Linked DNA regions of Homo sapiens: all the other regions are linked to region 1. The links come from fine-mapping of genetic effects on gene expression. A gene starts in region 1. Each other region holds a variant in brackets. All regions are shown on one strand. Distances are between the middles of the regions. Region 1 holds the start of NUDT7 (nudix hydrolase 7). Region 2 overlaps LOC107984878 (a long non-coding RNA gene). Region 3 overlaps LOC107984878 (a long non-coding RNA gene). Region 4 has its middle 27 kb from the start of NUDT7. Region 5 overlaps VAT1L (vesicle amine transport 1 like). Region 6 has its middle 42 kb from the start of NUDT7.

Region 1 (5,368 bases):
CAACGATATTTAACATCATAGTGTGTAAACACTTTGTGTAAACATCGGGTATTATAAATATCACAGCGATGTTTCATCGGTATCACAGTTTGTAAACCTTGGATATTATAAACATCACAGCGATATTTCATTTATATCACGATGTGTAAACACTGGATACTATAAATATCACAGCGATGTTTGCTTAATATCACGGTGTGTAAACACTGTATATTACAAATATCACAGCCATATTTTATTAATATCACGGTGTGTACACACTGGATATTATAAATATCATATTGATATTTCATTGAGGTCATGGTGTGTAAACACTGGATGTTGTAAATATCTGTGATATTTCATTGATGTTATGGTGCATCAACACTTGATATTACAAATATCACAGAGACATTTCATTGATATCACAGTGTGGAAACACTGGGTATTATAAATATCACAGCGATATTATATTAATATCACGGTGTGTAAACATTGTATATTACAAATATCAGCCATATTTTATTAATATCACAGTGTGTAAACACTGGATATTATAAATATCACATCGATATTTCATTGATGTCACGGTGTGTAAACACTGGATGTTGTAAATATCACAGCGATATTTCATTAATATTTCATTTCATTAATAATTTCACAAACTGCCCCACTGACCTAGGGCCAGCCACAATATTACTTTCATGGGCCCTAGCTACTTTGTTTTTGTGCACCCCTTCTTCCATAAAATAATTTTAAAGTGAATATTTTATGACTGAATTCATAAAATGACTATCATCCAAGCTGGATTCATTATTATATATTGCTTTTATTACATACCTTTTCTTCTTCTAATTTAAAAAGAAATTACAATTAAAACATTTTCACAGGTCCCTAAAATTACTGTGTGTGTCCTGTGCCTGTAAGGGAGAAGTCAGCCCTACACTGACCCCTGGATTCTCAGCTCGCACCAGGCTCCCTCACACACACTGTTCTCCAGCCCCTTTCTGCTGTCTTTGCACAAACTTTGCCCTCTTCCTTGAACACTCTCCCTTGCCTTTTTCCTCATTTATGTCCTCTATCCCGCACAGAGCATCAGAATCCCCTTACAGCACAGATCACTGGGCCTGACACCTGGCTTCTGATTCAGCAGTTGTGACATGGGCCCCAAAGTCCACCTTTTCTTTTCTTTTCTTTTCTTTTCGTCTTTTTTCTTTTCTTTTCTTTTCTCTTTTCTTTCTTTCCTTTCTTTCTTTCTTGGTTTTTGTTGTTGTTGTTGTTGTTGTTTTGTTTTGTTTTGTTTTTGAGACAGAGTTTCGCTTTTTTTTGCCCAGGCTGGAGTGCAATGGCGCGATCTCGGCCCACTGCAAACTCCGCCTCCCAGGTTCAAGCGATTCTCCTGCCTCAGCCTCCTAGTAGCTGAGATTACAGGCGCCTGCCACTGGCTAATTTTTGTTTTTTTAGTAGAGATGGGGTTTCACCATGTTGGCCAAGCTGGTCTCAAACTCCTGACCTTAGGTGATCCACCCGACTTGGCCTCCCAAAGTGCTGGGATTACAGGTGTGAGCCACAGCGCCTGGCCCAGAGTCCACATTTTTAACAGGACCAAAGTGATCCTGATTCTGCTGGTCTGAGGACCACACTTTGAGAACTACTGCTTTCAAGATGAGCTGCACTTCTATTTCCTCTACCAAGCCTCTTCTGTCTCCTAATTGGGTCACATTTCTCCTTCACACGCTCTAGAAGGACCAAAGGCCACTGCTTTATCAGTGTGATTTTTTTTTTTTTTTTTTTTTGCATTAAAAACTTCTTATCTTCTTCTTCTTATTTTTGAGACGGTCTACCTCTGTCAGGCTGGAGTGCAGTGGTGCTATCACGGCTCACTGCAGCTTCGACCTCCTGGGCTCAAGCGATCCTCCCACCTCAGCCTCTTGAGTAGCTGGGACCACAGGTGTGTGCCACCACGCCTGGCTAATTTTTTATTTTTATTTTGTAGAGATGGGGTTTCGCCATGTTGCCCAGGCTGGGCTCGAACTCCTGGATTCAAGTGATCCTCCCCTCTTGGCCTCCCAAAGTGTTGGAATTACAAGCATATGCCACTGCATCCAGCCCTGTGTGATTAATTTATGTTTCTACCATTTGACTGTGAGCTCCACGTGTCTTTTCGCTAGCTGTGGGATCTGCACCCAGTGCATACAGGTGGTCGGTGAACAGGTGCTGACAGCAGTTCCAAAAAGTTGAATGAATCACCTTAACCTTCCAGCAACAGCGAATGCGAGTGTAAAATATTATCACCTCACCAACACTGTATTTTTTTTTTTTTTAACTCTTCCAGCTCTAAATTCCACAACTCCTCCTATACCTCTTGCTTCCATAGAAGCCCAAGGAGCCCGGCAGAAACTGCTTTGAGCAACCAGGAACACCCGGCCCTAAGTCCCGCCCCGCGCCTCTCCCCACCTCAAGTCCCGCCTCTGGCTATAAGCCCCGCCCCGCCCCGATCCCGGCCTCCGATCCCAGATCTCGCACCGCCCCGCCCCCTGTCTCCGCCCCAGACACCACCCCGCCTCGTGCTCTAAGCCCCGCCCCTCTCTCTGGCTTTAGGCCGCTCCCAAGCCCAGAGCTGCTCTGCGCAAGCGCGACCGACCGAGCAGCTCCGAGGAGTCCGCCCGGAAACAAACATTCCCCAGGGCAATGTCACGACTTGGTCTTCCCGAGGAGCCAGTCAGGTAAAGGCTTTCCGGGCCCTGGCACCCCGAGCTTGGTCAGGCCCGGCCTTGATCGTAGCGGAGGCCACCGGGGCCTTTTGGCCGGGACTGATTTTGCAGCTCCCGCCAGTCCACCTGCGAGCGCCGGATGGGGGAGCACTCGCCTCCAGCAACCCGCAGGGTCCCCGAACCTTTGCACTGCTCTGGCCAGGAACAGAGCCGGCTTAAGCCAGTATGGTTTACATACACGCTGCTCCCCTTCCCAGCCGGCTTGGCTGTTCTGCAATCCGCGTCTCCAGAGTTGGACCCCAGGACCCCCGACAGTGGCACAGACCCGCAGCAGGCAGCCCCGGATTCAAGTCCCCCGGTGGCTACTTTCAGTTGTGACCTTGGGTCTGTCAGTTTCGTAAACTCTCTGAGCCTGGAGGTGACCCTGTGATCACTTGCCGGGCTGTTGTGAGGATAAAATGAGAAACGTCAAAATTGAGACCATGCTCAGAACGGGGTGGCTGCTACTGCTGTTGATACCTTGGTGATTATTCCAGCGGCCAGCCCCTAAAGTGGACAGATAACGTTTTTGCAGCCTTTTACTTTGGCTGGTTTGTCTGGTCAGTTCTGTGGTTTCCGGGTGGTTAAAAGCCACCAGCCCACAGTTTCCTTTTCTGGAGGCTGGCCTGCGTGCATCCAGATGCACTGTGCAATCCCTGTGCCAGCATTCACTGATTTTTTTCAGGCCATTTGGTCTTTGAAATACACTGCCGTTACCCAACCACATCTGGTGAGCACCCTGCCACCTAGAAAGAGGCAAAAAATAGCAAATACCTCCTGCAAACAACTGCTTATCTAATGATGGGGAGATTTATGACAGTGGTTACCATTCCCTGAGCACCAGCTGTGTGCCAGCCACAGTATATGAACTGCATCATTTAATCTTCTTAAATATCCTCAAGCCTGACACAAATGAAGATGAAACTCAGAGAAGTCATTTGTATACACTTTTTTTTTTTTTTTTTTGAGACAGAGTCTCACTCTGCCGCCCTGGCTACAGTGCAGTAGGCAATCTCGGCTCACTGCAGCCTCTGCCTCCTGGGTTCAAGCGATTCTCCTGCCTCAACCTTCTGAGTAGCTGGGATTACAGGCATGTGCCACGATGCCCGGCTAATTTTTGTATGTTTAGTAGAGGTGGGGTTTTACCATGTTGGCCAGGCTGGTCTCGAACTCCTGACTTCAAGTGATTCACCTTCCTCAGTCTCCCAAAGTGCCGGGATTACAGGCATGAGCCACTGTACCAGGCCTCCTATATACATTTGAAGCCAATTCTGGGTATCTTAAATAGCTGATTCTGCCCACTATGCAAAGCTGCCTTCCCACAGAAAAAGTAAAATCAGCTGTTCCTTTTCTAGGGCTGCCATAACAGAGTACCACACACTGGGTGTTTTAAAACAATAGAAATGGTCTCTCATGGCTATGAAGCCTGGAAGTCCAAAATCAAGGTATCGGCAGGGCCTCACTCCCTTAGAAGGCTCTGGGGGTGACCTTTCCTTGCCTCTTCCAGTTTCTGGTGGTTTCTGGCATTCCTTGGCTCACAGCAGCATCACTTCAACCTCTGCCGCCATCTTCACATGGTCTTCTTCCCTGTGTGCATCTCTCCATGTTTTTTCTTCTTTTATTTTATTTTATTTTTGAGTCAGGTCTCACTCTGTCACCCAGGCCGGAGTGCAGTGGTGCAATCATGGCTCACTGCAGCCTTGAACTCTGGGGCTCAAGTGATCCTCCCACTTCCGCCTTCCAAGTAGCTGGGAATACAGTTGCATGCCCCATGCCTAAGCTAATTTATGCTTTTTTTTTTTTTCTTTTGTAGAGACAGGGTCTTACCATGTTGACCAGGCTGGTTTCAAACTCCTGGGCCCAAGCAATTCTCCCGCCTCAACCTCCCAGTGTTGGGATTACAGGCGTGAGCCGCTGCACTGGGCTCGTTTCTGCTTCTTATCAGGACAACAGTCATTGGATTTAGAGCTCACTTTAATTACATCTGAAAAGATCCTATTTCTGAATAAAGTCACACTCTGAAGTTTGGGGTAGACATGAATTTCAGGGGTGAGGGGATACTGTTCAACCCACTATACAAACTAGCAGTAGAACACACCTGTCAAAAGGACCAAAACAAGTCCACATAGGAAGGGCACCATTTGCGGTTTTAAATCCAAATGCTTGCATATTATTGGGAAATTGTTCTCAGAATGTGTTCCCCTGTCCACAGCGTCAGTAACGCTGTCATGAGGGAGTTTGATACAAATGCTAATTCTCAGGCCCTACACCAGAGTTACTGAGTCACAGTCTGGGACTGAACCTCGCAGTCTATGTGACAGCCAGCGCTCCAGGTGATTCTGTTGCTGCTAAAGCTTGGGAACCACTATTATAAGCAGTTGAAGACATAAGAGTTTGAGAACATAAGGGCCAGCTTAACAGAAGGTAGTCTTCTAACCTTCTAACCTTAACAATGACTTTTTCATCAAACCTGTCTTCTCTGAATATAATTATGGGTTTCAAAATTCAACTGTTGCATTATTGAAAAAACATTTTACCATACTTTATGTTTCAAAGAGAACCTGTGTACTAAACTGTGTGCTTAGAAGGTTTTTTTGTCATTTTCATCTTGCGAACAACCACGCAATTTAGATAGT
Region 2 (5,368 bases), 36 kb after region 1:
ACCTGAAAATATGGATTTAAATTACAGAAAAATATGAGAAATTATTTGGGAAAATATTATAAATAAGAAATAGTCTGAGCCATCATATTCAGAAGACATGTGTCTCTCATTCTGCAGATTTTCAGTACAACACTAAGAGTGCGTCGTTTCATGGGACTTGTCGATTTTGAAAACCTTCATTCTCTGCCCACATTGAGTAGGCAACTATTTCTCCATGGCTTCCTCTTCCACACCCACTTCTACTAGAAACAGTTGGGTCTAAAAGGACCCAAAGAACAAATGAAATGGACGATTACATATATTCATAGAGTTCTGTCACTTGGCTTCTTGTTTACTTGTCCTTATAATCCTATGTGCCAGACTAGAATGGCAAGCTCTGTTGTACAGTGAAAGATTTGGTGAATTTCAATGCTTGCCCAAGAACACAAGGCTACTTAAGTGAGGATTGCTATTACAGAACCTATATTCCAGCCCCACTAATGTTACATTTCCCATGAAAGACCAAAAGAAGAGAAATCAGATGTGTTAAGGGCTTGGTGGTAGCTGTGTTTTTCATCTATACAGCATGTTTTCATATTGCCTTTGGCTATTGATCATCAGTGAATTTCCAAGTTATGTGTGTGGATAACATGATTTGTTAAGCATGTCTGAACTGGATCTCTGTCTCTTGCAACCAAAGGAACCCCAATATCAAATACATTTACAGCAGTGGAGAAATATAATGCAATTTATCCATTGTGCCCTGAGATTTCCAGGCCATACTAAGTTCAGAAGACCCCTATGAGTGACATTTATTTAAAAAAAAAAAAAAAGGCCGGGCGCGTGGCTCATGCCTGTAATCCCAGCACTTTGGGAGGCCGAGGCGGGTGGATCACAAGGTCAGGAGATCCAGACAATCCTGGCTAACACGGCGAAACCCTGTCTCTACTAAAAATACAAAAAATTAGCCAGGCGTGGTGGCAGGCACCGGTAGTCCCAGCTACTCGGGAGGCTGAGACAGGAGAATGGCGTGAACCCTGGAGTCAGAGCTTGCAGTGAGCCGAGATTGCACCATTGCACTCCAGAGCCTGGGCAACAGAGCAAGACTCCTCAAAAAAAAAAAAAAGAAAAGAAAAGAAAAGAAAACAACAACAACAACAAAACTAAGCAGATGATAGAATAGAAATCGACTGCTGAAGAATTCTATCATTCCCTATCACTACTTGAGGCAATCCGACAAAATTCATTAATTTTAGCTTCCAGTTAATAATAACACATCAGGAGAGAAGCTCACTAATGAACTTTTTCATTTGGAACATGAGGCGATCGATGTTTGTAGGGCATGTAGCACTCTTAAATTGACACTTATATTCAGCTAGTAGTGGGAAAATAAAGTTGTGTTTCTTGGACTAAACTCATCAGATAAATTCTCTTGGCTGTAAGTATTTAGACCTCAGGGTTAGCTAAAACTAAGCAATCAGATTATCTTGAGATACTCACATTTTTCAGATAATTGTTCCCATATAAAATTTCCCTCGTCCTCCTCTGCAGTTGATCTTGGATGAGCTAATGAGAAATGAACCATGCAATATGTTATTAATTTATTGGGTTATCCTCCATTACCCTAAAGTTGATCAATAAAAATTAAATCATTAAGGGGCCAAAGTATTTTTAGAAACAATACCCAAAACACCTGGATTATAGAATTCTGTTCACAAGTTTAAAGTCCAAAGGAAAGAATGCATCCCACCCCTACCAGCACTTCCATAAAAACAATCCTCCAGCTGGGCGCGGTGGCTCACGCCTGTAATCCCAGCACTTTGGGTGGCCAATGCGGGCAGATCACAAGGTCAGGAGATCGAGACCATCCTGGCTAACATGGTGAAACCCCATCTCTACTAAAAATACAAAAAATTAGCCGGGCGTGGTGGCAGGTGCCTGTAGTCCCAGCTACCCGGGAGGCTGAGGCAGGAGAATGGCAAGAACCCAGGAGTTGGAGGTTGCAGTGACCCGAGACCGCACCACTGCACTCCAGCCTGGGCAACAGAGCGAGACTGTGTCTCAAAAAAAAAAAAAAAAAAAAAAAGATTAAAACTTGCTACCCAAAGTTTACTTTTCCTTTCTCCTCCTAACCTCTGATGATCTTCAATAATTTAGAAAAAATGCAAAGATTTCTCTTTATCTTCTATGCCATAAAACTATAACCCAAACAATACCAAGAAAAAGCTTGCTAATATAGGGCTTGTTCATTCAGAAGCTGCAGGAACTCTGTGGCAAACTCGTATGTCAGGTCACTTTGTTCCATCTGGGACCATAAGTCCACTAACTCATAAAGAACAATAGCAGACACTGTGATTCTAAGAGAATTGGTCACTTTCATCACAGCATAGAATGACCGAAGCCTTGTGTAGATTCGTTCCATTCCTCACCGCCACTCAGCATCAGTGTAACCATTCTCAGGCAGCAGAAGAAGAGACCTGCCAAGGCTGCATAGCTGGCGATGGATAAAGGATGTGGCTCCCTTTGTGGCTGATGTTTGGCTCTTGATACCATTGCTGTCCCTCTGTAGTTATAGATCTGTATCTAGTCTCTGGATCTAGATCTAGTCCTGGATTTGGAGCTAGTCTCTGGATCTGAATCTAGTCCTAGTTCTGGATCTAGTCTCTGGATCTGGATCTAGTCTTGCTTCTAGATCTAGTCCTGGCTCTGGATCTAGTCCTGGTTCTGGATCTAGTCTCTGGATCTAGATCTAGTCCTGGATTTCGATCTAGTCCTGGTTCTCAGTCTAGTCCTGGTTCTGAATCTAGTGCTGGATCTGGACCTAGTCCTGGTTCTGGATCTAGTCCTG[G/A]TCTGGATCTAGTCTCTGGATCCAAATCTAGTCTCTGGATCTGGATCTAGTCCCCATTCTGGATCTAGTCCCCGTTCTGGATCCAGTCCTGGATTTGGATCTAGTCCTGGCATTGGATCTAGTCTCTGGTTTTGGATCTAGTCCTGGATCTGGAACTAGTCTTAATTTCTCCTCCTATTTTTGCCTTTTCCTTGCTCCTTGGATTTGCTGACTGCCCTTAGCTTCTCTGATCTGACCCTGTGGGGTCTCTTACAGGGCTGATTCATACTCATGCACCTTCCTCTACATCCTCTCTACCACCAACAGGGAGGCAAGGCCCTTCCTTCTCCACCCTCTCAGCCCTCTTGTCTGCGCAGGGCTCACTCTGCCTTCTGAGCGTTTGGGCTGTCACTTTCCCTAAGAAGATGCCCTGATAAAAACTCTGGTTCCTTTTCAGCCTAGGTTTAGCAAGTCCAATTTCTGTCCCTGGTAATATGAGCATGTTTCATTGGAGGATGAAAATCTCCATTTAGCTGGGATCACTAATCTTTCTGCAAAGCCCCATAGCACATGTATATTATCCATGATTTCGAAAAGGTAGTAAAGTTAAAAAAAAAAAAAAAAGTAACCCACATATGTTGGAGTTACACAATTCTAGTCCCATGTGGGTGTGGCCAAAGCCATTAATCCTCTAGGCCTCCATGTCCTTATCTGTCAAACAAGCATTAGGATGCCTACTCTGCAGGGTTGCTGGGAATAATGGACATAATAAAAGTGTGAGGCCTCTGGACACCTGACCAGGAGGGGCACTGAATCATTGGTGGGATGAACATAGGTCCATCCTGGGCACTTCACTCATGCCCATCTGATTTGTGTCCTTAAAACTCTGTGCACACTGAAAATCAACAAAGAAAACAGTAGAGTTAAACTACACACTCCATCTAGTAGGCCTAACTGATATTTACAGAACATTTTACTCAAATGCTGCAGAATACACGTTCTTTTCACCTGTACATGGAACATTCTCTAGAATAGACCATATCTTAGGCCACAAAACAAGTGTGTACAAATTAAAAAAAAAAAAAAACAGAAATTATATCAAGAATCACAGCTGCCTCTCCAAAACTCTTTGTTTTGATCTGTCTCATCTACATTTGGCCATTGCTATTTTATTGCTACTCAAAGTGATGTCCCTGGACAAGTAGCAACGTCCTCACCCGGGAGCTTGCAAGGAAATGTGGAGCTTCAGATTCTTCCCTGGACCTAGTGACTCAGCATCTGACTTTCACCAGATCCCCAGTGATTCCTGTGCATACTGAAGTTCGAGAAGCACTGCTCTATTTCACACTTCCTCTATAATTACCATCTGTCATTCCTGTCCTATTATATCTGTTATCTGATGTATTAGGCTCCTATTGCTGCTGTAACAGATTTCTGCAAACTTAGCAGCTTAAAACAATACAAATGTATTCTCTTGAACTTCTGGCAGCCAGAAATCTGAAATCAGTTTCTTGGGCTGAACCCAAAGTGTTCGCAGGACCGTGCTCCCTCCGGAGGCTCTGGGGGAGAATTTGTTCCTCTGCCTTCCAGCTTCTAGCACTTCATTTCTTGGCTCATGCCTCCTTTCCCCATCTCCAAGCCAGCAGTATAGCACCTTGCTTCAGTATTCACACTGCCACGTGGTCCCTCCTCTTACCATCCATTAAAAGGACAGTTGTAATTACACTGAGGGCCCACCTGCATATTCCAAGATAATCTTCCTATCTGAAGATCCTTAACTTAATCACATCTGCAATGTTCCTTTTAAGGAAACATTCACAGGTTCTAGGGGTTAGAATGTGGGTGTTTTGGGGGGCTATTATACAGCCTGTTATACCTGGGTCTCTAATTTGGCACTTAGTAGGTCTTTAATAAAAGTTGAAATTTGTATTCATTTAGTGGCTGTCACAATTAGTATATGCTCACCTGGAGATGCCTTCATGGAGAAAGGCAAGTAAATAAATTGACTATAACCTATCGTAATCCAGTATGAATGAATGTATCCCTTAGGTTTATATGTTTCCAATGGCAGGAAGTAGTTAATCTCAAAGGCTTTACAAAAGTGGTGAGCTAAGTCCTGAAAAATGATTAGAAATGCAGCAGGTGACCAAGACAGGGAGAGACATTCCAAACAGCAGAAACAGCATTTGAAAGTGCATAAAAGAAGACATGAAACAGCAAAGCCCATCCAGGGAGCTGTAGCGATTAGGTAAACTAGAGTGTATATATGAAGCCAGAGAGATCAGAAGATAAAGCAAAGAAGTCAGTAAGAATCACATTAGGAAATGCTTTGAATGACTCACCAAGGACACTGATGTTCATCCTGTAGATAGGAGGCTACCATTAAAGGGTTAAAATCAGGTCATTGACAAGGTCAGAAGTAATTGAAGAAAGGTCATTCTGGTAACAGTTTGGAGGCTATTTCAAAAGCTCAGAGCAATTAAATTAACTTTTCAGTTTATGGTAGGTGTTTGAATAAATATCTGCTCAATATCTCTCATATGCACCATCACGCTTGAACTG
Region 3 (5,368 bases), 30 kb after region 1:
GAGCTCCAGATCACTTCCAACAGCCAACATTTGCATCTGTGTTCCTGCAGGCTTTTTCCAAAGCCACAGCAGGCCAGCTGGAAGTGACAGGGAATTAATGTCCCCTACATTAACCCTCAACCAATGACTGATGGGATTTTGCATATCAGTAGCTCAGGTTCTTTGCCCCTTGGGTGGGATAATTCTGAGACAGGTGTTCTGTACTTGCTCCCAAACTGAACTAAACTCTGGGTGCCCGCTGTGGTGGCAAGTTTCACACTTCTTTTCATTGGCTGCCTTCCCTTCTTTGTCTCATTTCTCCACTCCCATAACAATGTGCCCTGTAGATTCCAAATAAATAACTTGAATCTTGTCTTTAGGTTTCTAGGTAAACCAAATTAAGACACTCCTATATCTAATCCGTCGCCAAATCGTACTGAATTTATCTTCTGAATATCTATCAAATCTAGTTCTTCTCATCTCTACCGACATCAACTTAGTTAAAGCTGTCATAAACGTCTGAAAACTTTTGCATCTATCTGGTAACTATTACCCTGCACCATCTCTCTTCTATAGCCAGAGTTATTTTTCAATATAAATATCATCATATTTTCTTGAGGCACTCAAATGGCTTCCCATTGTTTTTTATGAAAAAGATGGATGGCTCTTACAAGGCCGTGTCCTGGCTCCTGTCTACCTATCTGGTTATGTGTAGTACCATGAGCCCCCTCCCTGCTCATCCACTCCTACAGCACTGGCCTGTAGAGGCTCAGTTTCAGTCCATGGGTGCCTCAGAACTCTTGCACAAGCTGATCCCTCAATCATTTCCCTTTGCCTGGTTACCTCATACTTATTGTTGAAGGATGCCTTCTCTGACACCTTAGCTAGGTTAGTTCTCCTTGTTATAAGCTCTCTTGGTGCCATGTACCTCTACTTCATAACTCCTGTCATAGTTACAATATGATATCCCCTTGATTCTTTGATTGATGTCCCCTCATTCTCTGGACTTCAACTTCCATAATGGCACAGTCATGTCTCAATTTTGGTCCATACACAAGAGTACTCTTAGCACTTGGCACAACACTGGGTAAAGAGTAGGTGCTCAATGGATATTTGTTAAATAAAAGAGTACAACTAAATGAGAAGTAGCTATTTCTACTCAAATAGCTAATTCAGTGGGCTAAGGAAAATTCAGTCTCTTCCCAACAGACTGCTTGACAAAGGTCAACCTAAGGTGGTCTAGCATTGTTGTAAATCACCCCCTCCTGCATTTACTGTATAAGGTATATAAAGTGCTCTACCAGAGTGGACATGAGTGAGTGGCTCCTATCTTTAACCAGTTTTTGCCTTGTAACTTAGTTATTTCCATACCTAGCTGTCTTGATGTACTATGAACTACCAGAGGAGCAGACTTAGCTCTTCTTTACCCTTCTAGCCTCAATGCTAGCCATATATTTAGGACCCATGCCCCTTCATATCTACAAAAACTTGCCTTAAATCCCCATTGTAATTCCAGTGGAAAGCTCGATATTCTCCCCAAGATTTATTCAAATCCTTCAGAGAGTACCTTTCTTCTAATCACCTTAGGTTCAATTTCCAGCTTCAGTGAATGTTAGTTCTGTATTCTGCATCTTGAGGTCTTTTTCCTTAGTGCCAACCCAAATCCAGGACAGAGACTGCTTCTCCTTGTTTTTCCTAAAGTAACTTGTATGTAAATCATTGAGTGGCTTTAATTGGAGACACAGGGATATCAGCCAGGTAAACTTTGATTGCAACATAAGAGAGCCAAACTTAAATTTGAATATTATGTTTTTCTTGTTCTTTAAAAGTCCTGTCCATTCTACCAAGTTGGGTATCAGGCTGATGCTGTATTCCTCCACATGCTTGTTCTTCCTTTTTGCTTTTCTCTTTGCTCCCACCACCAAAATGACATTCATTTCCTTTTCAGAGGATGGTGTCTATTTGGCTCCATGCATCTCATGCCCACTAGGACCCACCTTCCACATTCAATAAGCTCAGCAGTGAATTTTCCTAAATAAGAAGAGTTTATTTGTGGTACATTGGTTTCAATTACACTTTTTTCTCACTCCACTGGATATTTTTTAATGAAATGACAAGGGTCAAATGAGGACAGCCTTCTAGCAAAAGCCATGGGCACTGAATTGAAAAAAACATGCTGTGCAAAACACATTTGGTGGGTGAATTCATTGATCCAGTAACGAGCTTGATGAGCCTGAGCCTGAGTTGCAGTGAGGGGGGTGAATGATAAGATCAGGAGTGGGACTTGGAGGAATAAGCTGCATTTAGGAAATGAGCAGAAGAAAGGTAGAGCTAAGGCCATGAGGGCCAGAAGAGACGACTGGGGAGCAAAGGACGTAGGTGAGGGAGGAGGAAATGAAGAATTTATACTGAAGGAACAACAAGGATGACTTTTAGGAGGAGGGTGGTGAATGGAAGAACCCTGAGACAAAGGAAGACATCACCAGCCAGGGGAGGTAGGCATTGCCCCTAGTACTGTCCATAAATATGCTCTGTAACCTTGCAGACAGAAATCACAATCTTGCTGAACCTCAGGTTCCTTACGTATAAAGCGGATTGGAACTAGTTAATCTCTAATTCCTTTTCCTTTTGAAATCTCCAATTCTGGGTTTTCCCCAGCCTCATTTAAGCATATCCAGGTAATGAAGCCATTCTGCTTAATGTTTTACAAAGGAAAAATCTGACTGAGGAAAAGAAAAGGATCACTTTTTGTCTACTGTTCGAAGCTAGCAGCATGCATAGAGTTTATTATGTGAAAATGCCATTTGGGGAGGTTAATTAAAAATTCTGACATTCAGATCAGGGATTTGGGTCAGGAATGTACAAGTCCAGGGCTCTGGGTAGAATTAGACAGGCATCTAAACGTTGAACCTTATTAAGTATATAGTTAGGCCTTAGGA[G/A]GGGGACATTTGGAAGCTAATATTCCAAACCCAAGCCTAGTTGGCTTTGTGCATTTTGTTTGAATTATGACATATTTAATAGGATTTACCTGCAGAGCCTGTGCTTAACAATCTGTTTCCTTGGCAATGCAATCCTCAAACGGGCAAAGGCCATATGGAAAACATGGGTTATTTGGTAATTTAATAAGTGAGATGAGAGGAATAGTATTTAATTCAACGTACATATTTTTATCCCCTCTATGTTCAATAAGAAAAAAAGAGATCAGCATTAAGTACATAGCATGTACTTAATAAGTGGAAAGTACAATTATTATTATCAGAAACAATTTTTGTACTATGCTTTATATTATAATAGGTGCCCAAACATGTTATGCTATTTGTCCAAAAACACTCACCAGACAAAATAATTCTTCTTAGTAGTCCCAGAGGCGTTATGCTTCAGTTTGTTTTTCTCCCTCTTTGCTCCCTGCACTTCATCAGCAAGTTTGTTCATTCTGCTTCTGATTCACACCCTAAATGCATCCTGTCCCCCTTTCCACCTGTAGCACCTGGTCCCAGACTCATCATCCCCCTCAACCCCTTACCTCCCCTGCACCTATTCTTGCTCCTTATATGCCCTTCTTCACCCAACATCCAGAGTGATCTTTTGAAGTCATGAATAAAGTCATGCCGTTTCTTGGCCTAAAACCTTCTAGTGTCGTCCAACTGTGACTGACTTTATTTTTTTCTTTCTTTATTTTTCATTTCTGGTAGAGACAAGGTCTTGCTATGTTGCCCAGGCTGCCCTCAAATGATCCTCTCTCATCTGGCTCCCAAAGTGCTGGGATTGCAGGCGTGGGTTAGTGCGCTTACCCACCTGTGCCTGTAATAAAGTTCAACCTTTGTCTTTGGTTGACAAAACTGGCACATTGTGGACTCCGCCTACTTCTGACCCTTCTTGATCTTGGCCACTGAACTTCCTTCAGCTTGTGCTTCTTTCTCCTGTTGGAAACGCTATGCTTGCCCCCACCATAGTGCTCTTGCACTAGATGCCCCTCTCCCAGCAATTGTCTTCACCCTGGTTTTTGCATGGATGGCACTTGTTTTATCATCAGTTCTCACTACACCTGTCGTTTCCTGGAAGAGTCTAACGCTGATGTCATTCTCTCTCATGCACCCATATTTTACTTCCATATCTGGTATTTTTTGGGTACATACTTGGTTTTTTTTCCTATCTCTCACACTAGAACACAAGCTCTGTGAGTGTGGGGACTTTCAATTATATTTTATTTTCCATTAGGAATTCAATAAATAAGTACTGAGTGGATGAATGAATTAATTTGGCTGAAAACTAGATGGTCAAGGTCATTTTATTGCCAAGAAGTAGGTCAATACAAGAATGAAATCACAGTAATGATTAGGTAAAAATAAAATTCCCAAGCACTGCTACTTTAATTTGTATTATTTTTTAATACTGATGATTTGTTTCATCATGGGCTAATTTTAGTACTATTCATGCATATTTAATTATGTTTTAGAATTATTCATTTTTTTCTATTTTAAAGATTGTCTAATTTATTCTCAGCTAATTAGTCCAGCTTTATATTTGTATACATTAGGAAAAATTGAAGGCAACCTAGACACCAAACAAGTTGTAAATGGTTTAAATAAATTATGGTAAATTATAGAAAGATATATATGATTTCATTTTTGTCAGTTTTATCCATACTTCTCTATTTGTAAGGATATTCATAGAGGTGTTAAAAATTGTCTTCTCAGGGAGGAGGTTGGGATTATAATTATCACTTACATTCTTTGTTTTTTGGTAGTTTTTATTTTTGGGGGGCTTTTTTCCTAATTTTTCTACAATGTGTACACACTGCTTTAATAATCCATAAAAGTAATTTTAAAAACAAAGTTTTGAAAGGATATAAAATATAAGGACTTGGAATGTCTGAGTATGAGGAGTTTTTTTTTTTAACTTAAAAACACAAAATCCCCTCAAAACAAAAAACCTAATCCCTAAATTAAAAAAGATAGAAAGCAAAAATTCAAATTCTGAAACTAGAATTTTCAGGGACTGAATTCACCTAAGGTGATCAGAGGGAGGCCATCGTTGGCACATCTTTGGAGTACATCAGTTTAGCTGCCCAGGCCACACTTTAGTAGAATATTCATGGCTGCGAGACCATCTTCCTTCCCTTTCGTTCTCCCTCCAAGTCCATTGCTTGCGTGCGCCATAACATCACCCCTCTAACCCCAGTTTACTATATTCACACCTGCAGTAAAAAATGGCCACATATAAAACACTCTGAGAAGTTTGAGAAAGTTTTCTAAATGTAAGGAAGATATGTGAGGCTGTGGCTGCTCCCTCTCTTGGGTATCTATTTTCTTTAACCGATTCACATGGGGGCTGAGCCATGTACCAGGAAGAACATTGCAACTTGCCAGCATTGGAGTCCAGCCATGCG
Region 4 (5,368 bases), 27 kb before region 1:
AAAAAAAAAAAACACTGACCTATCGGTGAGTGTCCAAATTGCTTAGAATGTCCTGGATTCCCATAATAGGCTTACCCACTATCAGCTGTCCAGTCCCATCTGATGCTGCTCATCACCATGTACCTTTAAGATGACTCAGCTTTCTGGAGACCTGCATACTTCTTTTTGCCTCAGGGCCTTTGCACAGACTATTTCATTATGGCTGAAGTCCCTTCACTCCCCTTTTCCACCTGGTGAACCAATGCTCAGACTTGTCAACCCAGCCTCTATCTCACTTCCCTTGAGAAATCTCTTCAGTCTCAACAGGCAGCATTAACTCCTGACTTTGTGGCCCCATCATTTTTTAGTACACATTATATTCAAACCTATAATCCACTGACATTATTTACTTGTGTCTCTGACTTTACAACTAGGCTGAGACTCGATAGGTCAAAAGCTGCCCTACACGGAAGCACTTAATAAATGCTTACTGACTGGGCAGTTTTTCCAGTGAATTTCAAAGCAAAAACACTTTATCATTTTATTCCCTTCCTCCACCAGCACCATGGTTTTAATTTGAAAGAACCCTTCAAAGGAGGCTATGGGAAGCCATGTGATATTCCCTTAAGAATATGAAAGCCGAGGGTGATATTTTAACAAGCCTCCTTCTCTTACAGATATTAACAAGAATTGAGTACCCAAAAGCAGCTTAGTTTATACCTCACAGCACTATAGAAAAGGATCTAGCAGATGTCATCATCCCCCAAAGCTCCAGGAAGAGATATTATCACGAGTTAGTAAAATTTCTTAAATACTGGCCAGGCACAGTGGCTCACGTCTGTAATCTCAGCACTTTGGGAGGCCGAGGCGGGTAGATCACCTGAGGTGAGGAGTTCGAGACCATCTTGGCCAACATGGTGAAACCCCATCTCTACTAAAAATACAAAAATTAGCTGGGTGTGGTGGTGTGTGCCTGTAATCCCAGCTACTCAGGAGGCTGAGGCAGGAGAATCACCTGAACCTGGTAGGTGGGGGTTGCAGTGAGCTGAGATCATGCCACTGCACTCCGGCCTGGGCAACAGAGCGAAACTCTGCCCAAAAAATAAATAAATAAATAAATAAATCTTAAATACTACTATAGCAAGTGTAGTCACATGGAGATGGGACTGAGTAAAATGTTCCTCAAATCTGCCCTCCTGTCTTCAATCATCAGCCATACCCTGGGGCAGGGCACCCTGGGCTCCTACCTGAACAGGTGTGGCCATTCACAATTGTCCCACCCATCTCATCTCTGCTACCGCCCTCTGCACCTTCAGAGTCTTCACAGGTGGTCTTCAGGGCTCGGTCATCAGGTCCCTGGGGTCCTCTCCTCCTCTTCAATATGCCTCACGCTACTCCCCCACTGCTAGTGAGTTCTAGCACCTTCCCACCTGGGCGCTCCCTCTGCCTGCAGGTTTCTTCCCGAGCTCTTTTCAAGACTTATTGTTCAGCTCCTGGCTTACATATGACGTCCTCAGAGTCCTTTTCTGGCCATCCTATAGGAAACAAGCACCTCTTCCTTTCCTCATCACCACATTCTGCTTATTTTCTTTATCATTTTCATAAGTATCTATGTGGGGTCATTTTTAAGGCATTTGCTTCCTTTTAAAAAAAAATACAGACAATTCGGTCAAGATTCTGTGTTCTTTGTTCTCTGCTCTATTCCCGGAATCTAATTCAGTATCTGGAACACAGTAAGGACGTAATGTGCATTTGAAGAGAGGGAGGAGGAGAGAGAGAACATACTCATAATTTCCAAGAATCATTGCTTTCTGTCACCTACGTCCATTCATTTTATTAGAGCAGAAATGTGTTTTGGAAGTTGAGAATTAACAGAAAATATGTAAGATCAGCTGGGATAGAGGAGGAAGACAAGCTGTAGGGAAGCCTTTTTTATTTCCATGGGGCACTGGTACCAAAGTTGTTGAACTACACAGATGAAATAATTTTGCTGGTGAACATGGTTGTGTTTGTAAATTGTTTTATCCAAGTGTCCATTACGCACCCCCCTCCCTCATCACTGCCTTACCTATGAGGAAGGAATGAAGAGGGTTAAATTGTATCTGTCTACACAGTTCACTGGCCCTTCAGGGCGCACCATTCAATGGTGTATGTGTCTTCGCTAACCATATTATACCGTTTTTAAATGACCATCGCTCTGAGAGGAAGAAAGAATTCTTTACCAAAATGTCATAAATACATTCTGAGAACCATTGAAGAGCACTATAAAACTATCACTCCTAGACAGATCCTTAACTCTAATACATCTAATAAAGGCATGTTAAATCACTTTGTCTCGATAAAGTAATACTGATTTGGTTCCTCCCAGGCCCAAGTCGGAGGTAAAGTCAGTTAGGAGCCCTTCCCCGAGTCAGAGTCTGCTGCATGGCCTCCCTGACTCCTCCTCTCTTCTCCCCTATGACCGACCCTCTCCTTTTTCCTCCAGCTGCTTATTCCTATGCTATCCCATTTGCTGACTCCTCCTTTTCTTTTTAGGGGGTGGGTGGGCGGGGAATGGAGTCTCACTCCGTTGCCCAGGCTGGAGTGCAGTGGCGCA[A/G]TCTTGGCTCGCTGCAACCTCTGCCTCCAAGGCTCAAGCTATTCTCTTGCCTCATCCTCCCCAGTAGGTGGGACTACAGGCATGGGCCACCACACCTGGCTAATTTTTGTATTTTTAATAGAGACGGGTTTTTGCCATTTTGGCCAGGTTGATCTTGAACTACTGACCTCAAGTGATCCACCCACCTCGGCCTCCCAAAGTGCTGGGATTACAGGTGTGAACCACTGCACCCAGCCCTCCTTTTCTTTTCTTTTCTTTTCTTTTTTTTTTTTGAGACGGAGTCTCGCTCTGTCGCCCACGCTGCAGTGCGGTGGCACGATCGCGGCTCACTGCAAGCTCCGCCTCCCGGGTTCACACCATTCTCCTGCCTCAGCCTCCCGAGTAGCTGGGATTATAGGCGCCCGCCACCACGCCCAGCTAATTTTTTGTATTTTTGGTAGAGACGGGGTTTCACCGTGTTAGCCAGGATGGTCTCGATCTCCTGACCTCGTGATCCACCCGCCTCAGCCTCCCAAAGTGCTGGGATTACAGGTGTGAGCCACCGCGCCCAACTAATTTTTAGTAGAGACGGGGTTTCACCACATTGGCCAGGCTGGTCTCAAACTCCTGACCTCAAGTGATCCTCTCGCCTCGGCCTCCCAAAGCACTGGGATTACAGGCTTGAGCCACTGTGTCTCTTATGATAGAGTCTAACAAACACAATAGGTAGAGGGGCAAAGTGTTAACAGATAGAATTTCTTCACAATTTTACAAAACTCAATTTGTGCAAATTGAAAATGGTCCACCATTCTGTGAAACCTCTTTGTTTTCAATGCTTTAAGTGTAGAATCACATTTGCTCCACACAGTAACCTCATGGGTTAAATACCAGTAACATCCCCATCTTACACAAAGGGAAACTGAGGCCTGAGGAGATAAGGAGATTTTCCCACAGTCACACAACTGGGAGCAGGTGAAGTGAGGACTCTGGCAGGTAAGATTCCAAAGCTGTTGCTCTTTCTTCTCATGAGGCAGTTTCAGTCTATTGTTTGGTTTCAGCCAAGGTCCAGTTCACTGAATATCTGAGAGAAAAGAGTGTGAGAACCACCAGGGAGATGAGCCTGTTGCATAGCAACCCTGTGCTTGAGCCTGGTGCAGGGAGATAGGCTCCTTAAGTTTTCAAAGCACTGCCACTAAAAATAGCCCAAGAGATGACAGATAAATGTGAGGTCTCACCCAGGAAGAAAAAATCATCTTGCACAACTATCTTTACTGTGTTGTCCTTGGGGAAAACAAGATTATGGGATGCTGGATGTCTGCAACTTTTCTCAGTAGACACATTACTACTTCATCCCACTTATAGGTGAGGATGGCACCATTCATATGGTCCCCATGAAATATCTACTTCTATATTTTTTCCACTCCATTGCTGGAATTCAATTCAGATCGAAGAAAATGCTCTCTACTTGATTGCAAACATGGCCTTCAGCTTACCTGTATTTATCTCCCAGAAATTAATCATCTTGGTTAGAATTACCTTATGTGCAAACATTTATAATGCCTACATTTGTCACTCCTGGAGAGACCATGCCAATTACAGTGGCACCATCTATAAATCTCATGCCTTCCAAAGAATATTAGATATTTAATTAGATCTTGAAATCCCTCTTCACCTAGTGCCTTAAGGGTCTCCAGGTTCTCTTCTGAAGCTGGTAATTAAAGGAAGAACTTATCCTTGAGTCCCCTGTACCTCTGTGAGAATCAGGAAGGGCCCAGAGTAATTAAAAGCCTGAATATCGGCTTAGCTTAAGCAAGCACAAAAGCCAACAAAAAGACACGTAAATACAGCCATTTGTCCACAAGGAACTTCCAAACTACTTGGCCATTTGTTTATTCAAATATTCTATAAATATTTATTAAGGTAGAATAATGGTCCCCCAAGATGTCCATCTCCTAATCCCCAGAACTTGTGCATGTTTAATTACATGGCAAAGGGTAATTCAGGTTGCAGATGGCATTAAGAACACTAATCCGCTGGTTTTAAACTAGGAAGATTATCCTGGACTATCTAGGTGGGCCCATTGTAATCACAAGGCTCTCAAAAGTGGAGGTTGGAGGCAGAAGAGTCCGAGGGAAATGGGACTATGAAAGAAAGGCACAGAGAGATGGAGAAAGGAGACCACCAGCCAAGGAGCAAGAGCAGCCTCCAAAATACAAAAAGAGCAAGGGAACAGATTGCCCTGCCTAGAACATCCAGAGCCTCCAACCCTGCCAACACCTTGATTCTAGCCCAGTGAAGCCCCTTTTGGGCTTCTGACCTCCTGAACTGTTAAGATAAAAAAATTGGCATTCTTTTAAGCCACAAAGTTTGTGGCAATTTGTTGCAGCAGCAATGAGAAACTAGTATCAGCACCTGCTTAGTGCTTAACGAACAGCTTCATGCTCAGTACTGGGAACACAACAGTGAAAAAGACAATCACTCTCCCTGCCCTCCTGCAGCTTACACTCTAGGGATACAGATAAGAGAAGGAAACAAATAATCAGAGGCTGTAACACAGGCAATGAACATAAACAAAAGAGGGATCGACAGAGACTAACAGAACGTCATTTATTTCGGTGGGGAGAATGGCAGGTATCTCTACAAAGGTGACATCTCAGCCTAAAAGAAGAGAAGGGGTTTGGGGAAAAGAATTCTAGATGGAGGGGACTGCATATGCAAAGGCCCAGAGGTGGGAAAGAGCTTGGCAAATGCCAGGTACAGAGGGAAAACCAACGTAGTTGGAGTATGGCAGGCCACAAGTGGAAAAGCATGAGA
Region 5 (4,000 bases), 160 kb after region 1:
GCCTTTCACTTTGCTACTTTCTGACCAGGTCTCTGGGGGTACTTGAGATTTCTCTGTCTCCCCATCCTCTTGAATCGGAGATAGAAATGAGGACCCTATGACCTTAACAAGATCCTGAGGTGACTTGTAGACTCAGACAAGCTCATGAACCACTCTCTTGGGTGATCATGCTTTCAATATGGTGGTTAGTTTGTCGGCCATTGCAAAGCGACATCCCTGGGCATTCACCTCACTACAAATTGACTCTGATCTATCTTCCTATCTGGAGCTATACTTGCTAGAATTATACTGATGTTGGCTTGAACTTTTTTGAGACCGAGTCTAGCTCTGTCACCCAGGTTGGAGTGCCGTGGCATGGTCTCGGCTCACTGCAACCTCCACCTCCTGGGCTGTAGCAACCCTCCTGCTTCAGCCTCCCAAGTAGCTGGGATTACAGGTGTGTGCCACTATACCCAGCGAATTTATGTATTTATTTTGGTAGAGACAAGGTTTCACCCTGTTACCCAGGCTGGTTTTGAATTCCCGGGCTCAAGCAATCCGCTTGCCTCAGCCTCCCAAAGTGCTGGAATTATAGGTGTGAGCCATCGTACTCGGCCAAACTTAGTTTTTTAAATATCATTTCAACACCCCTTCCCCAGCCCAAATTCCTTCTCTTCTTTGAAATGAACCACCAGTACACCAGCACCAGCCCATGTTGCTTTTTTTTTTTCTTCGCACGTTCCAGGGTATTTTTTTTTTTTTTTTTTTTTTAGTAATTTCAACTTTTTAGATTCAGGAGGTACCTGTGCAGGTTTTTTGCCCGGGTATTGTATGATGCTGAAGTTTGGGGTACAAATGATCCTCTCATTCACATAGTGAGCATAGTACCCAATAGTTTTTCAACCCCTGCCCCCCTCCCAGTCCCCTTTAGTGGTCTGCAGTGTTAACTGTTCCCATATTTATGTCCATGAGTACCCAGCTCCCACTTAGGAGAGAACATGCAGTATTTGTTTTTATGTTTCTGCATTAATTTGATTAGGAAAATGAGCTCCAGCTGCATCCACGTTGCTGCAAAGGACATGATTCCATTCTTTTTTATGACTGCATAGTATTCCATGGTGTATACGTCTCACATTTTATTTATCCAGTCCACCATTGATGGGCACCTAGGTTGATTCCATGTGTTTGCTATTGTGAATAGAATGGCAATGAACATACGGGTGCATGTGTCCTTTTGATAGAACGATTTACTTTCTTTTGGATATATACCCAGTAATGAGACTGCTGGGTCAAATGGTAGGAACTTTTATTTTTACCCCTCCCCAACAGGGGATTGCTGCTTTTCACAAGGGTTTATTTTTGCCCCCTCTACTTTTGGACTTCTATGTGCCAGTGCAGCGTCAATTGATCCACTCATTTGACAGGCATTTTCTGAGCACCTGCTGTTTGTGGTATTGTGCCAAGCACTGGGCTATTACAGCACATAAGATAGGTGCACTTTGGGCCTTTTTGGTTCTTATATACTAATGAGGGAGACAAACCCAAAATAAGCAAGATATGTTAATTAACATGATTATAAATGGCTATTAAACCTCTGAAGAGGATAAAAATCAAGTGCTAAAATAGAAAATAGCAGGGTGGGTGGAGGCAATTAAAACAAAGTGGTCAGTGAAAAGTATGGTAAGGAGTTTGGAATTCATTCTAAGTAT[G/A]GCACTATGTGCTATTCATATGCCCTCAAAGTGCCAACATCAGCTTCCAGAAACATCAGCCCCAAACATTCTGGAATGGATAATACTCCCTGCATTTGTGAGATTCAAATCAAAGGTCTTCTCTTTGCATTTGGGCTTTAAAATATGGGTCAAGGATCATCCTAACTACAGAACCGACAGGAGGAGCAAGAATGGAGTGTAATGAAGGATGCTGTCTGGAGTGTGTCCCCTGAAGACAGGCTTTGTGCCATGCACAGCTGCTCTGTTGCTGTGGCTGTAATTAACATGATGTTGACAGACTGCTGTGGGTAACCACACTGGTCCCAAATTACATACAATTGTAAGAAGTGTTTTCCCTTTCTCCTCTAAATGCACAATCCCAACACACAGTGTTAATGAAATAATTGCAGCGTGCCCATGCTCAATGAAGGCATTCATAAATGCACAGCCAGGATGGGGATGGAGATTCCTCTGCCCAAAGCAGGGGTTCCTATTTCCAGAACGCTTTGTACCTGGAGGTCAAGAATGAGGATGTTTTCTTTCAGAGGCCTGCTCAAACACTGAGGGTCATTTGGAAGAAAACTGAAGAGAGGGCCTACGAAGAGGTGGAACTTTGCTCTGAAAAGTCCTAGAAAAAAAATTTTTCAATGTATTCAAGAAGGGCTTAGAAATTAAAGGTCGACTGGAATTATACAGGAATTTCCCACTCAGCTATCTTAATGATGTTGCATCTTAAAATCGCTGCAGTTTGTGCCTCACTATTTGTCAAACATGCTATTTTCTTTCACACCATAACGATGATGATACTAATAGAAGAAGTTAACATTTACAGAGCAATCTGACTCCAAATTTGGAGCTCTTATTCACTAAACCAAAAACATCTTGTTCAAATTAAGATAATAAAAGTGGTGTATGTTTATAGAGCACCTCATGCGTGGCAGACACTGTGCTAAGCACTTGATATGCATTAACACATTTACTCCTCATAACCACCCCATGAGGAACAGTGAGGAAATTGAGCACAGAGAAGTTAAGAGATTTGCCTAAAGTCACACAGCTAGTAAGTGACAAAGCTGAGATTCAAAACTAGGCATTCAGCTCTATAACCTTCTTAACCACAACTGTACATTTGCAGCAAGCATTCATTCCACAAACATTCACTGAGGCATTGCAGATACACTGTGAATCAAGTTATTATTTTTCTATATTTGCTGTATTTCCCAAGTTGGTTTGTTTTAAATGAGGGTCCTAAAAATCACTGTCCCATAGAATAGAATTTTGGATGTAAGGAATACGTTAAGTTATTTAGTGATTTCCAAACCACATGCCTCACCACACCATCTGTGCCACAAACCCTTGCCAGGTAAGACCATCAAAACTGAAAGCCAAGAAACCTAAGGTCAAATGCGTGGCTCTTATTGGTCCCCCGGCCCTCTCCGAATGTGCTTTTGTAAATAATTTTGTATATGAACCTCATCATTGTTTTCAACCTGCCTTTTCCATGCTTATTCTCCTAGTGACACGAGCTTCCCAATTAAAAAAAATAAAAAATTTTCACTTTAGTCAGTCTCCTTAATTCTTTTCGAAAACAGGATATAAATGAGCTCAATGATAACATAAAGGCTATCAATGTTTCTAAATGCCCATCACATTCCTCTTTGCATCCTGTATTGAAATGATTTTGAACATCTTATCCCCTAGAATCCCCCAGAAACTGGACGCTTGGATTTCTAACCTATAACCAGCACCAAAGGAAAAGCAATTAAATCATAACAAAGCAGTTGGATCCCCATTTCTCTAGGTTTCCAGTGGATTATTTACTTATTTTGATATGAAGGGAGGAGATGACAGACTGGAAAAGAGATGGCCACATTAAATAGTTTGTAGGTATTTCACCCAGAACTTTAGTCCAGGGCATCTCGGCTTTAATGCTATGGATATTTGGGGCTGGGTAATTCTTTGTTGTGGATTATTCTTTGCTGTGAATATTCTTTGTCCTGAGCACTGTGGGATGTTTAGCTGCATCCCTGGCTTCCACCCACTAGACGCCAGTAGCACCACCTCCCGCTTCAGTCATCACAAACAAACAAAAATCCCCAAACAATATCAAATGCCTTCTGGGGGACAAAACTACCCCCAGTTCAGAACCATTGATTCAGTCCCAACAATTTGGCCTCATCATTTCTTCATGCTGTTACTTCTTCCTAAATCATCCCTCCTCCCTCTTCATCCGATGGATCCCTACCCGCCTCCCCAGATTTAGCCTTATCAAAACCACTCCCCCAGGAAAGCTGCTTCTGCAGTCAGAGTGG
Region 6 (5,368 bases), 42 kb before region 1:
TATCTCTGATAGAAGATTCTACAGGACACCACAACTACCGTTACTAATAGCCTATGTTTTGTGATACCTAATTTGGGCCAAGCTCTCCATATAAATTATTTTTATAATCCCTCACGATAACCCAGTGGGGCCGGGTGCGGTGGCTCACGCCTGTAATCCCAGCACTTTGGGAGGCTGAGGCGGGCAGATCACCCGAGGTTAGAGTTCAAGACAAGCCTGGCCAACATGGTGAAACCCCGTCACTATAAAAATACAAAAAACGTAGCCAGGCATGGCGGTGGGCGTCTGTAATCCCAGCTACTTGGGAGGCTGAGGCAAGAGAATCCCTTGAACCCGGGAGCCGGAGGTTGCAGTGAGCTGAGACGGTGCCATCGCACTCCAACCTGGACAACAAGAACGAAATTCTGTCTCAAAAACAAACAAACAGAAGCAAAACAAAACCCTCTGGAACAGACGTAATTTTTATGTTTTCTGACAGAAAATCTGAGGATTAAAAAATGTCAGGTACTCACTGTATTAGATTATTCTCACACTGCTAATAAAGACATACCCGAGACGGGGTAATTTATAAAGAAAGAGGCTTAATTGACTCACAGTTCAGCATGGCTGGGGAGGCCTCAGGAAGTCCACAATCATGGTGGAAGGGAATGCGAACACATCCTTCCTCACGTGGCAGCAGCAAGGAGAAGTGCAGAGTGAGAAGGTGGGAAGAACCACTTATAAAACCATCAGATCTTGTGAGAACTCACTCAATATCATGAGAACAGCATGGAGGTAAGTGCCCCTATGATTCAATTACCTCCCACTGGGTCTCTCTCACGACACGTGGGGATTATGGGAACTACAGTTCAAGATGAGATTTGGGTGGGGACACAGCCAAACCATATCATTCACCAAAAGTTGCAATGATAGTAGGAGATACCAGGCACAGTGGCTCATGCCTGTGATTCCAGCACTTTGGGAGGCCGAGGGGCAAGGATTGCCTGAACCCAGGAGTTCAAGGCCAGCCTGGGCAAGATAAAGAGACCCCATCTCTACTAAAAATACAAAAAATATTAGCAATGCACCTATAGTCCCAGCTACTTGGGAGGCTGAGGCGGGACGATCACCTGAGCCCAGGACATCAAGGCTGTGGTGAGCTGTGATTGTGCCACTGCCACTCCAGCCTGGGAGACAGGAGTGAGACCCTGTCCCAGGAAAAAAAAAAAAAAAAAAGCCTGGCACGGGGACTCACACCTGTAATCCCAATACTTTGGGAGGTGGAGGTGGGTGGATCACTTGAGGCCAGGAGTTCGAGACCACCCCTGGCCGACATGGTGAAACCCCATCTCTACTAAAAATACAAAAATTAGCTGGGCGTGGTGGCACACACCTGTAATGCCAGCTACTCAGGAGGCTGAGGCCGGAGAATCATTTAAAACTGGGAGGCGGAGGTTGCAGTGAGTCGAGATCACACCACTGCACTACAGCCTGGACGACAAAGCGAGATTTGGTCTCAAAAAAACAAACAAACAAACAAAAAAAGGTTGTAACATGTGGTAGAATCAGAACTCAAAACATAGGCGTGGTTGAGACTAGTGACTGTTCTTAATCACTGTGGAAGCCTGGAGCAGAAGACCCAGCTCTCCTAGGAGGTGAAAGGTTAAGTCTGAAATGTCATGCGATGCCTGCTTGGATTCTTGGGAATGATCTGTGCTGATCTTATAAATCTCTCTCCTAGACTTAAATTTCTCTACATACCTTTCAGTCCTTATCCAAGAAAAGTTGGCTTAATACATACAACTAGAATCGAGGCAAATTAGACTCCTTTAAATGCGTCCATAATGTCTGCTTCATGGCTCTTCAAAAAAGACATGCGATCCTGTGAAATGCTAATTTGATACATAACCAAAGGAAAGTAACATGCTCTTGTCTTGGCTAATTCGTAGCTGTTAGTTGAGCAACACCGTTTATTTCCAGGGCTAGCCTTAGATATAGCACAATTATAGAAAAGGGCTGTCAGCACTAATTGCTCCATTGCATGCCCAAAAAGTTCTACAGAATCTGAAATGCTGACAAACAGTCCAGACCCACTGGAAAACATCTGCAAATCATAATCTTTTAATTTCAATGAACATGGTGGAAAGTTTCAGCTTCAATGACTTACTAAATCCCTGAGCCATCTTAAAGTCTTGTGTTCTTTTCTTTCCTAAGCCAAAGAATAAAACAGCTTTGAAAGTTGTGTTTTTTAGAGTGTGGAGCCAAAATGACTGCTATAGTTGTTAATGTTTAAAATGACATTTCAGATATGCCATCTAACCTAAATGAAAATTTTAGAAGGCTATTGATCATTATAAAAATATTTTTAAAGATATAATTTATATACAGTACCATAAAATTCATTTGTTTTAAGTGTACAATTCAATGATTTTTGCAGTAAATTTTCAGTTATGCAACTAGTGCCATAATCCAGTTTTAGAACATTTCC[G/A]TTAGCCCAAGGAGGTCCCTTGTGTCAGTTTGAGGTTATATGCCTCATTTCCACCTCCAGTAACCCCTAATCCTCTGTTGCTAAAGTTCTGCTTTTCACGACATTTCACGTCAATGCCACCATAGAAACTGTGTTTGCATCTGGCTTCTTTCACTCAGCATATGTTTTTCAGATTCATCTACATTCTAGCATGTAACAGGGCTTTGTTCCTTTTTTATTCCTGATTAATATTCCTTTTATGGATGCAGTTCATTTTGTTTAAGCATTTACCATTCAATGGATTTGTGATTGTTTCCAGTTTTCAACCATTACAAATAATGTTGCTATGATAATTCATGTCCAAGTCTTCATGTGGACACGTGTTTTCCGTTCCTTTGTGTAGATACATTGTAATAGAATTGCTGGATTATATAGTAAATTTATGTCTAATTTTTAATACTTTGAATTTTATTTATTTATTTTTTTTGAGACTGTGTCTCGCTTTGTTGCCTAGGCTGGAGTGCAGCAGCATGATCACTACTCACTGCAGCCTCACCTTCCAGGGCTCAAGCGATCCTCCCACCTCAGTCTCCAGAGTAACTGAGACTACAGGTGCATGCCACCTCACCCAGCTTTTTTTGTTTTGTTTTGTTTTGTTTAAAGAGATAAGGTTTCCCTATGTTGCCCAGGCTTGTCTCAACCCCCTGAGCTCAAGTAATACTCATGCCTCAGCCTCCCAAAGTGTTGGTATTACAGATGTGAGCCTTTGTGCCAGGCCTGAACTTGTTTTATGTGTAACTTTTTAACAAACTGCCAAACTGTTTTCCAAAGTGGCTGCGCTATTTTACATTCCCAGGCTGGTCTTTATTTATTTATTTATTTATTTTGCAGGAGCGTGGGTAATTTTTTGTAGAGACAGGGTCTTGCTAAGTTGCCCAGGCTGGTCTCAAACTCCTGGGCTCAAGCAATCCTTCCACCTCAGCCTTTCAAAGTGTTGGAATTACAGACGTGAGCCACCGTACCTGGCCTCTCATACTGGTCATTTTTAATAAGACAAATGATTTTCTTAAAAAAAAAAAAGAAAGAAAGAAAAAGGAGCTATAGTGTGAAGGAAAAAAAAAAGATGCCCTGTAATTACCCCTGGGACAAAGGTGCTGTAGAAAACAGAATGTTAGCAGGAGCATGAGTTTCCTGAGTTGTTTTAGGAACTCCAAAATGCTGGGAATTTCAACTATCTTTAATCCAAAGAGCCTTCTGGTTTTAAGCTGCTTCGAACCTTGTTCTTGCTCCATGGTTGGGGAGAAGTTGAAAGGGAAACGACTGCTAGGTCTCTTAGTAAGTAACCCAGTAATTATATATTCAGATTGTCACCCTACCCTACCCTTCTACATTTCCCAGCCATGCCCTGGCCCATTCCTCTTTACATTTACAACAGCTTTCTGACTTATCTTACTGGCTCTGTGCAACTACCTTGAACTCCACTCCCACTTCTAAACCTGAGTGAAGTATTCTTTTTCTTGGTTTTCCTAATACCCTGTGTATGCCTTTTATGATAAGATTTTCTAGCCTCTCTCAAGGAACTATACTTTACTTATTTTTATCTCTTCAGTACTCAGTATAGACTTTGCCTCATTGTGTATACTCAATCATATTGCATGGACCAATGAATGCATTGATTAACACAGAATAAGCCCTATCTATTAAATGCATCATGGTCTTAATCTCGTTAACTGAAATATGTTACAAATAAGGATAGCTTTGAATATCTGTCTAGTTAACTTCTGATTTTCTACAAAAATAACTAGAAACTGAACCTAGAATTGGCTGTCAGGTCTACAAAAATGCTGCTGGTTCTATCTCTCATCAGCTTTGTGGCCTTGACCTCGTTACTAAATTTTGCTAAGCATCAGTTTCTTCACCTGAAAGCATCGCTATAACGATTAAATGAGATAGTCCATAAAAAGTCCTTGGTTATTATTTTATTACATCATCATTCTAACAATTATTGAATACTTACTACAATTTTTATGAATATGAGTACAGAGGTTGATGTGTCTTGCTCATAACTGTAATATTCTGGCCGTTATGGTGGCTCACACCTATAATCTCAGCACTTCGGGAGTCTGAGGTGGAAGGACTGCTTGAGCCCAGGAGTTCGAGACCAGTCTGGGCAACACAGAGAGACCCTGTCTGTAAAGAAAATTGAAAAACTAGCTGGGCATGGTTGTGCACACCCGGAGTCCCAGCTACTCAAAAGGCCGAAGCAGGAGGGTAGCTTGAGCCCAGGTGTTCAAAGCTATAGTGAGCCAAGATCACACCACTGAACACCAGCCTGGGTGAGAGAGTGAGACCCTGTCCAAAAAAAAAAAAATAAATCCATATTCTTTGCTACAGGGAATTGTGAAAAGTAATGATGCATATCGCAGTTCTAGAAATTTTTGGCTTTCGTCTACATAACGGTCTCAGGTCATCCAACCTCCAAATTATAGTCATCTATTGAGAGGCTGTGTGAGAGACAAGATCCTAAAAGCCAAAGGTAATGAATGATGAGGACTATATTAATAATGCACACACACTCTCCTCCATTTCATTCATATCCCAGTAGAAACTTTAAATTTCAGAACTCCCATTCAGGGTGATTCTCACCTAATGGAGGCTGGTTTCAGCACAACACGCATCAGCCGATACTCCCGACTCCACACAGCCAGGCTTGCACACATTTATTATCAAGAGCTGCAGCTTGTCTCCGGCGGTTTGACTGGCTGCTACCCACCTCCTCTTCAGTGTTTCTCAGAGGAAGCAACAAACTCCGCTGGAGCACTCTGTGGAATCCTCAGATGGAGAAAGGAAACCGCCACGGTGCAAGTGCGTTCACCACGTGTTACACACACTTTGAAGATGATGGGCTTGTTAGGCTGCAAT

Evidence for each region. PIP is the estimated chance that this variant, and not a neighbour inherited with it, causes the effect.
Region 2: its variant is the best candidate, but not a certain one, in a credible set for the expression of NUDT7 in whole blood (TOPMed, PIP 0.62).
Region 3: its variant is the best candidate, but not a certain one, in a credible set for the expression of NUDT7 in subcutaneous fat (GTEx, PIP 0.61).
Region 4: its variant is the best candidate, but not a certain one, in a credible set for the expression of NUDT7 in whole blood (INTERVAL, PIP 0.56).
Region 5: its variant is the best candidate, but not a certain one, in a credible set for the expression of NUDT7 in tibial artery (GTEx, PIP 0.86).
Region 6: its variant is the best candidate, but not a certain one, in a credible set for the expression of NUDT7 in whole blood (TOPMed, PIP 0.55).

What each region holds. Positions count from the first base shown.
Region 1 is chr16:77,719,913-77,725,280 of GRCh38, forward strand. It overlaps NUDT7 (nudix hydrolase 7), which reads left to right and starts at 2,602. Exons shown (of 4, transcript NM_001105663.3): 1 at 2,602-2,705. The coding sequence starts at 2,671. RefSeq lists an enhancer at 2,440-2,734 and a silencer at 2,448-2,577.
Region 2 is chr16:77,755,908-77,761,275 of GRCh38, forward strand. LOC107984878 (a long non-coding RNA gene) reads right to left here. Exons shown (of 6, transcript XR_002957866.2): 5 at 1,480-1,545. Among named protein-coding and RNA genes, the nearest start is that of VAT1L, 30 kb to the right of the region's middle. The variant G/A (reference allele first, on the strand shown) is at 2,828.
Region 3 is chr16:77,750,126-77,755,493 of GRCh38, forward strand. All of the region lies in intron 5 of LOC107984878 (a long non-coding RNA gene), which reads right to left. Among named protein-coding and RNA genes, the nearest start is that of NUDT7, 30 kb to the left of the region's middle. The variant G/A (reference allele first, on the strand shown) is at 2,919.
Region 4 is chr16:77,692,615-77,697,982 of GRCh38, forward strand. No RefSeq gene overlaps it. Among named protein-coding and RNA genes, the nearest start is that of NUDT7, 27 kb to the right of the region's middle. The variant A/G (reference allele first, on the strand shown) is at 2,576.
Region 5 is chr16:77,879,864-77,883,863 of GRCh38, forward strand. The region is part of intron 6 of VAT1L (vesicle amine transport 1 like); the gene reads left to right. Among named protein-coding and RNA genes, the nearest start is that of VAT1L, 93 kb to the left of the region's middle. The variant G/A (reference allele first, on the strand shown) is at 1,689.
Region 6 is chr16:77,677,563-77,682,930 of GRCh38, forward strand. No RefSeq gene overlaps it. Among named protein-coding and RNA genes, the nearest start is that of NUDT7, 42 kb to the right of the region's middle. The variant G/A (reference allele first, on the strand shown) is at 2,468.